2 separate regions of the Homo sapiens genome follow, and region 1 is linked to region 2. The links come from fine-mapping of genetic effects on gene expression. A gene starts in region 2. The other region holds a variant in brackets. All regions are shown on one strand. Distances are between the middles of the regions. Region 1 has its middle 7.8 kb from the start of GNG7. Region 2 holds the start of SLC39A3 (solute carrier family 39 member 3).

Evidence for each region. PIP is the estimated chance that this variant, and not a neighbour inherited with it, causes the effect.
Region 1: its variant is the best candidate, but not a certain one, in a credible set for the expression of SLC39A3 in monocytes after Pam3CSK4 (Quach 2016, PIP 0.52).

Annotation. Positions count from the first base shown.
Region 1 is chr19:2,708,276-2,712,660 of GRCh38, forward strand. No RefSeq gene overlaps it. Among named protein-coding and RNA genes, the nearest start is that of GNG7, 7.8 kb to the left of the region's middle. RefSeq lists an enhancer at 2,216-2,295. The variant C/T (reference allele first, on the strand shown) is at 2,213.
Region 2 is chr19:2,737,616-2,742,000 of GRCh38, forward strand. It overlaps SLC39A3 (solute carrier family 39 member 3), which reads right to left and starts at 2,402. Exons shown (of 3, transcript NM_144564.5): 1 at 2,330-2,402. RefSeq lists silencers at 1,498-1,765, 2,174-2,573 and enhancers at 1,884-1,933, 2,634-2,683.

The DNA.
Region 1 (4,385 bases), 29 kb before region 2:
ACTGCTAAGTAATATTCCACAATGAGGATGGGGCACAATTTGTTCAACCATCCACCCACTGAAAACCAGTGTTTGGCTCTTACTAATAAAGCTGCCGTTAACATTCCTGTAAGGGTTTGTGTATGAACATAAATCATTTCTCTGAGATAAATGACCAGGACCACAATCGCTATGTCATATGGTAGCTGCATGATTTGTTCTTGAAGAAACTGCCAAATATTCTTCCAGAGAGTTATATATTTTTTAATGTTTTCTTTTGAGATAGGGTCTTACCAGTTTGCCCAGGCTGGTTTTGAACTCCTGGGCTCAAGTGATCCTCCTGCCTTAGCCTCCCAAAGTGCTGGGATTACAGGCATGAGCCTGTATTTTTTAATGGTTACTTTTTTTCCAGAACACTAAAGCAGTTGAAAGTATTCAAGGATTGAAAAGATGTTGTATTCAAACTCACAATGTCATGTGTCTTTTTACAATGTTATTATTAAGTTTCTTTATGTCCAAATAGACTTTATTATAATTTTACTGTCCTAGTTTTAGTAGAAGCAAATCCTACTAAATCATCAGTCATATTTTCAAAATCTACTTCTGGAAAAAATCAACCACTAAAAATGCATACAGATATATAAAGGTGCTGGGCCGGGCGCGGTGGCTCACGCCGGTAATCCCAGCACTTTGGGAGGCCAAGGCAGGTGGATCACGAGATCAAGAGATCGAGACCAGCCTTGCCAACATGGTGAAACCCCATCTCTACTAAAAATACAAAAATTAGCTGGGTGTGGTGGCACGCACCTGTAGTCCCAGCTACTCAGGAGGCTGAGGCAGGAGAATCGCTTGAACCCGGGAGGCGGAGGTTGCAGTGAGCCGAGACGTGCCACTGCACTCCAGCCTGGCAACACAGCAAGACTCCATCTCAAAAAAAACAAAAAGAAAAGAAAAGAAAAAAGAAAATTAGATGGGCACAGTGGCACACACCTGTAGTCCCAGCTACTCTGGAGGATGAGGCAGGAGAATCGCTTGAACTGGAAAGGAGGAGGTTGCAGTGAGCCGAGACTGCACCACTGCACTCCAGCCTGGACAACAAATTGAGACAGTCTCAAAAAAATAGAAAGATATGTAAAGATGCTTAAATATTTGGTATATGTACACATGCACACATTTTTCCTTTTGCCTGAGGCTCTCAGGGGAAGGTTGGATGCTGTCTTTATTTGGGACTTTAAAATTTTGTTCAATGCAGATTTTTTGTACTCATGTCAATTTTTAAAAAAATATTGCATTAGGACCAGGTGCAGTGGCTCATGCCTGTAATCCTAGCACTTTGAAAGGCCAAGATGGGAGGATTGCTTGAGGCTAGGAGTTCAAGACCAGACTGGCCAACATAGTGAGACCCCCATCTCTACTAATAATACAAAAAATAAAAATTAGCTGGGCCGTGGTGGTGCATGCCTATAATCCCGGCTACTCGGGAGGCTGAGGCAGGAGAATTGCTTGAACCTGGCAGGTAGAGGTTGCAGTGAGCAGAGATCATGCCACTGCACTCCAGCTTGGGCAACAGAGCAAGACTCTCAAATACATACATATTGCATTAGTGAGGGTGGCTAGCGTGGCTAGGAGGGATATCACGAGGGAGTCTTTGGTGTCGCTTAAGTGTCTTGTTTGTGCAGTGGCTTACACCTGTCATCCCAGCACTTTGGGAGGCCGAAGCAGGAAGATCCGTTGAGCCCAGGAGTTCGAGACCATTCTGGGCAACATGGCAAGACCCCCCCACCATATCTACAAATATATATATAAGAAAATTAGCCGGGCGTGCTGGCTCACTCCTGCAATCCCAGCACTTTGGGAGGCCGAGGTGGGCGGATCACGAGGTCAGGAGATTGAGACCATCCTGGCTAACACGGTGAAACCCGTCTCTACTAAAAATACAAAAAATTAGCCGGGCGTGGTGGCGGGCGCCTGTAGTCCCAGCTACTCGGGAGGCTGAGGCAGGAGAATGGCGTGAACTTGGGAGGCGGAGCTTGCAGTGAGCCGAGATCGCACCACTGCACTCCAGCCTGGGCGACAGAGCCAGACCCCGTCTCAAAAAAAAAAGAAAGAAAGAAAATTAGCCACATGTGGTGACGTGCATGTGTCTGTAGTCCCAGCTACTCAGTTACTCGGGGGGCGCTGAGGTGGGAGGATCACTTGAGCCCAAGAGATTGAGGCTGCAGTGAGCTGTGTT[C/T]ACACCACTGCACCATTCCAGCCTGGGCGACGGAGCAAGACCCTGACCAAAAAAAAAAAAAAAAAGTATCTCGTGACGGTGTTTAGAGGAAGTTATGCGTGTGATAAAACTGCATAAACCACACACACACTCACACACTCAGATGAGTGCATGCAAATCCAGTGAAGCTTGCATCCTTCCACTGTGCTGGTTTTGAGGTTATACTGCAGTTATGCAAGATGTAAACATAGCTGGGGGGCTGGGTGCAGGGTGCATCAGACCTCCTTGTACCTTCCCGTGAATCAATAATTATTAATAAATAAAACGTTTTAAAAATTGCAATGAAGGCCAGGCACGGTGTCTCATGCCTGTAATCCCAGCGCTTTGGGAGGCCAAGGCAGGTGGATCACCTGAGGTCAGAAGTTTGAGACCAGCCTGGCCAACATGGTGAAACCCCATCTCTATTAAAACCACAAAAATTAGCCGGGCATGGTTGTGGGCGTCTGTAATCCCAGCTACTCGGGAGGCTGGGGCAGGAGAATTGTTTGAAGCCGAGATCACACCACTGCACTCCAGCCTGGGCGACAGAGCAAGACTCCGTCTCAAAAAAAAAATAATTTTTAAAAGAGGGTGTCTCAAAACCCATGGTCACTTGGAGAAATAGAGGAGGGGGTCCCAGGCAGGTGCTATGCTCCCTGCAGCTGCAGCTGGGATCCCACCATCTTCACATCTGACCTGGAGGACATATCACTAACCACGGCCCTCTCCCGCCTCCTGGGATCCTGGCAAGCCAGACTCCAACCATACATTCACATTACACAGATAGGGAAGCTGAGGTCCTGTGGGTTCCTGCCTTTGTAAAATAGGGCTCTTAGTGCCTGTCCGACCTCCTCAGCCAGCTGCGGTAAGTACACGGTACAGCGGGGCCCTCGAGGTCTCTTGAGGGAAATGCTGAAATGTTCCCGTAACCCCCTGGCATCCTTCTCGTGAAAGTCCAAACTCTTCCCACAGCCCACCAGGCACTGTTTGACCCCTGCTGGCGACCTTCAACTTCACTGGCCACCTTCCCTCTCCTCCCTCCACTCCTCCCAGCCAGGCCTCACCTGTTCCTGCTTTGACACCTTTGCTGGTCCCCCTGTCCAGTGCTCCGTCCCAGGTCCCCTTGGAGCTGGCCTCTCCCCCGCTTCCCACATCAGCAAACACGTCAGCTTCTGAGTCAGACCTCAGAAGGCCTGGGACTCCCAGCCACGTCACTTTTGTGATGCAGGTTTATCTTCTGCGTAGGGAGCATGTGTCTGCGATGATTTGATCCACTTCTTCATAGGGAATCATCGTCCCCAGTGGGTTATGCTCTCTGAGCAGGCAGGGGGCTCTGGGGCTGGTGTCTGTCACTGCTGTGTCCCCAGCATCAGGGCAGGACCAGGCATAGAGTGGTGCCTCTTACATACTGGATGAATGAATGAATGAATGAACCAATGAATACGTGAATGAATGATGTCTCAGCTCTTCCTTCCTTCCAGTCTGGTCCTGAACAACGCCTTACCTCTTCAGGTCAGATCCCTGCCCCAGCCTGCTCTGGGTTAGGGGTGAGGGGTGGGGGCTGGGCTGGCAGATGGGACAAGCAGGGAAGGTCCCCTGACATGGTTTGGCTCTCTGTCCCCACCCAAATCTCATGTTGAATTGTAGTCCCGTGTTGGAGGTAGTGCCTGATGGGAGGCGACTGGATCATGACGGTGGATCCTCATGAATGGATCCACCCCTCAGTCCTGTCTCATAATAGAGTTCTCACAAGATCCGGTATGGCACCTCCTCCCCTGTGCTCCTGCTCCGGCCGAGTGACCTGCCTGCTCCCCTCTGCCTTCCCCCATGACCGTAAGTTTCCTGAGGCCTCCCAGAAGCAGCTGCTGCCATGCTTCCTGCACAGGCTGTGGAACTATGAGCCAATTAAACCTCTTTTCTCTATCATTTACCTGTATCAGGTATTTCTTTTCTTTTTGTGGGGCGGCGGGGGGTTGGACAGAGTTTCATTCTCGTCACCCAGGCTGGAGTGTAGTGGCACGATCTCAGCTCACTGCAAGCTCCGCCTCCCGGGTTCAAGTGATCCTCCTGCCTCAGCCTCCCTAGTAGTTGGGATTACAGACTCCCGCCACCACGCCCAGCTAATTTTTTGTATTTTTAGTAGAGACAGGGTTTT
Region 2 (4,385 bases):
CCAGGCTGGTCTCGAACTCCTGACCTCGTGATCCGCCTGCCTCGGCCTCCCAAAGTGCTAGGATTATAGGCGTGAGCCACTGCACCTGGCCAGTTCTTCAGTTTTGGAACTCGGACTGGCTCTCTTTGCTCCTCAATCTGCAGACAATGTATTGTGAGACCCTGTAATCGTGTGCAATTAATACTTAATAAACTTCCCTTTATATATATAACTATTCCATTAGTTCTGTCCCTCTAGAGAACCCTGACTAATACACTGTCTCAAAAAAAGAAAAAAGTTCATCAAAATTAAAAAAAATCCAGGCTGGGTGTAGTGGCTCACACCTGCAATCCCAGAACTTTGGGAGGCCGAGGTGGGTGGATCACCTGAGGTCAGGAATTCGAGACCAGCCTGGACAACATGGTGAAACGCCGTCTCTACCAAAAATACAAAAATTAGCCGGCCGTGGTGGCAGGCACCTGTAATCCCAGCTACTCTGGAGGCTGAGGCAAGAGAATCGCTTGAACCCAGGAGGCAGAGGTTGCAGTGAGCCAAGATGGCACCACCGCACTCCAGGCTGGGCAACAAGAGCAAAACTCCATCTCAAAAAAAAAAAAAAAAAAAAACTAAATAAAATACAAAATTCCGCTCCTCAGTCTCCCTGGCCATATTTCAAGCGCTCAGTAGTCACACAAGCCTACTTGACTTCTGTGGTTACCGTATTTGACAGCAAAGGGAACACTCTCATCACTGCAGAACATGCTATTGGATGGTGGTGGTCCATGGCTTCCCCATGCCCCGAAATAAAGTCTAAACTCTGTACCCTGAGGCTGAAGCTCTGCATGACAAGCTCCTGCCTCGCCTCGGCCCTCACTGGTCCTTTCTGTGCCAAGCTTGCTCGTGCCTCAGGACCTCTGCATGGGTTCTCCTCTCTCCACCTGGAACACTGCTCTCTTTCCCCTGACCTTCCAGCGAGGCCTCCTTCTTCTTTCTTGCTTCTCTGCATCCAGGACCCCTCAAAAGGGCCTCCCTCGGTTGGGAGTGGTGGCTCACACCTGTAATCTCAGCACTTTGGGAGGCTGAGGTGGGCAGATCACCTGAGGTCGAGAGTTCGAGACCAGCACCTGAGGTCGAGAGTTCAAGACCAGCCTGGCCAACACAGTGAAACACTGTCTCTACTAAAAATACAAAAATTAGCTGGGTGTGGTAGTGGGCACCTGTAATCCCAGCTACTTGGGAGGCTGAGGCAGGAGAATCACTTGAACCCAGGAGGTGGAGGTTGCAGTGAGCCAAGATCAAGCCATTGCACTCCAGCCTGGGTGACAGAGTAAGACTCTGTCTCAAAAAAAAAAAAAATTAGCTGGGCATGGTGGTACGTGCCTGTAATCCCAGTTACTCGGGAGGCTGAGGCAGGAGAATTGCTTCAACCCAGGAGGTGGAGCTTGCAGTGAGCCGAGATCGCGCCATTGTACTCCAGCCTGGGCTGCAGAGCAAGACTCCGTCTCAAAAAAAAAAAAAAAAAAAAAAAAAGGGCCTCCCTCTCTGCCCCTGGCTGACTCCTGCCCTAAACCATATCCCTGTACCCGCCGGAAGGCCTGCTGCAGAACAGATACTCAAAAACCGCTGGCTGAACACATGGACGAGGGGAAGCGTGTGGCCACTGATAAGGGCCGCATTTTACCTGATGCAATGGGCCAAAGTGAAGTCGGTTTCACCCTGGACCCCAAAATGTCACCGTTCTTAGGAGGAATCTCAGCTCCTCCCCTGTCCTTGAGTTTTCCCCAACTGGGTTTTCTCCCCCACCATCAGCCCCAAGCGCCTCATGGCCCCGCTACCTCACTGCATTCAGGTCTTCGGGTCACTGCTCAGATGTCTCCACTCAGAGCTCTCCCCGCCCCCTTCCCTGGTGTTATTTTCTTTTATTTTGTGCTACAGAGGGAGCTAGGAATTACATTATTTTAAGTCATTTAAAGTCGTCCCTCCCCCCCGGCGGTGAGCTGGGCGGGACCAGGCTGTCTGTCTTGCTCAGGGCCAGCTGCACCCAGCGCAGAGCCACCCAGGCACACAGTAGGCGCCCAATAAAGACCTGTCCGGCATCTGGATACCTCAGTCTGTACAGTGAAGGTGAGGGTGGCCTGCACGCTCTCAAACCGGAGGCTGCTCGGGCCGGGATGAGGAGGGCACGGGCTCATTCATTCAATCAGCACTTATTGAGCGCCTTCTGTGTGCCTCGCGCTACCGGGCACCGGAGACGGGCCTCGGCTAACGTGCGGGTAGAGTCCAACAGACCCCCGGCCGCTCAGCGCCGCCCCGCCCCGCCGCCCCAGGTCCTCTCTCTGCCCGCACCTACCTCCCGGGGGCCCCTCGTCCGCCGACTGGCGCCGCTGCACGCCCAACGGCCGCGCAGTCTCGACCCCACAGACGCGGCCCGGAGAGGCCCCGCTCGGCGCGGCTGGTCCACGCCCCGCCCACGCCCCTGCCCATTGGCCTCCCCGAGACCCGCTGGCAGAACTTTCCATACTATTGGCTGCGAAACCTGCCACTCATATGCGACTCCACCTCTCCTACCGGCACAGGAAAGGGGTTTCCTCCCGCTGAGCGGCGGGCGCAGCCACCAAGCGGCCCCGGCGGGAAACCCGGATTGGCGAGGAACGGTTCCGGCAGGGTTGGGTTTCCAGAGCTGTCCAGGGGCGCCTGGTGCTGAATCCCGCTTGGAAAGAGGCTTGGAGGTGGATGGGAAGGGATTTCCAACGGAGGCGGCTCCTCTCTCAGCGTCCTCGCTGCTGATCCCCTTACCGACGGCTGAAGAAGCAGATTCATCCCTTCAACAAATCTCTGTTGATAGGCAGGAGGAGTAAGTCCAAGAGATCGACTGTACATCATGGTGGCTACAGCTCGTAACAATGCATTGCATACTGCAAAATTGCTAAGAAAGTAGATGTTACATGTTCAAACCATGAAAAAATAAGTATAGGAGGTAACGCGTAAGTTAAAAACCAAATCTTGGCAGGGCGCAGTGGCTCACACTTGTAATCTCAGCACTTTAAGAGACCGAGGCGGGAGGATCGCTTGAGTCCAGGAGTTCAAGGCCAGCCTGGGCAGCATAGTGAGACCCCATCTCTAAAAAAAAAAAAAAGGTTTTTTTTGAGACAGAGTCTCGCTCTTGTCACTCAGGCTGGAGTGCAATGGCGCGATCTTGGCTCACTGCAACTTCCGACTCCCGTGTTCAAGCGATTCTCCTGCCTCAGCCTCCCGAGTAGCTGGGATTATAGGCGTGTGCCACTATGCCGGCTAATTTTTGTGTTTTTAGTAGAGACGGGGTTTCACCATGTTGGCCAGGCTGGTCTTGAACTCCTGACCTCAGGTGATCCTCTTACCTTGGCCTCCCAAAGTGCTGGGATTACAGGCATGAGCCACTGCGCTTGGCCTGATGACTTGATTCTAACAAATAGAAAATGGCAAATGAATGGGATGTCATTCTGCGATTAGGCTATGAGAGATTGTGACTTCTGTTTTGCCAGCAGAGCCTGTCTCTCGCCTTCTCAGCCTACGTGTCTTGACAAAGCAAGCTAAGATGCTGGAGAGATCCAGAGGGAAAGGAACTGAGGGTGTCCTCCAGCCAACAGTCAGCAAGGCAATGAGACCCTCAGCACAAGCGTCCATAAGGAACCAAATGCTACCAACAGCCATGAACGTGATCATGGAAGAGGGTCCTGCCCCAGTTGAGCCTTTGGATGACTGCTTCACTTCAATTGCAGCCTTTGAAACACCCTAAAACAGGGCTGCATGTGGTAGCTCATGCCTATAATCCCAGCACTTTGGAAGGCCGAGGTAGGCAGGTCACTTAAAGTCAGGAGTTTGAGACTAGCCTGGCCAACACGGCAAAACCCCATCTCTACTAAAAATACCAAAATTAGCCAGGCATGGTGGCGGGCACCTGTAGTCCCAGCTACTAAGGAGGCTGAGGCATCAGAATCACTTGGACCCAGGAGGCAGAGGTGACAGCGAGCTGAAATCATTACCATTACACTCCAGCCTGGGCAACAGAGTGAGACCCTGTCTCAAAAGAAAAAAAAAGAAGAAGAAGAAGAAGAAAGAAAGAAAAACAAAGACCCTGAAAACAGAAGACCCATATGAACTGCATCTGAATTCCTCACCCACAGAAACTGAGATAACACATGCTGTTCTAGCCACTTAGTTTTGTGTTTGTTTGCTTGTATTTTGAGACAGGGTCCTGCCCCATCACCCAGGCTGGAGTGCAGTGGTGCAATCACAGCTCACTGCAGCCATGACCTCCTGGGCTCAAGCAGTCCTCCCACCTCAGCCTCCCGAGTAGCTGGGAGCATGTGCCACCATGCCCAGCTAATTTTTTACCTAATGTCACACAGGCCAGTCTTGAACTCCTG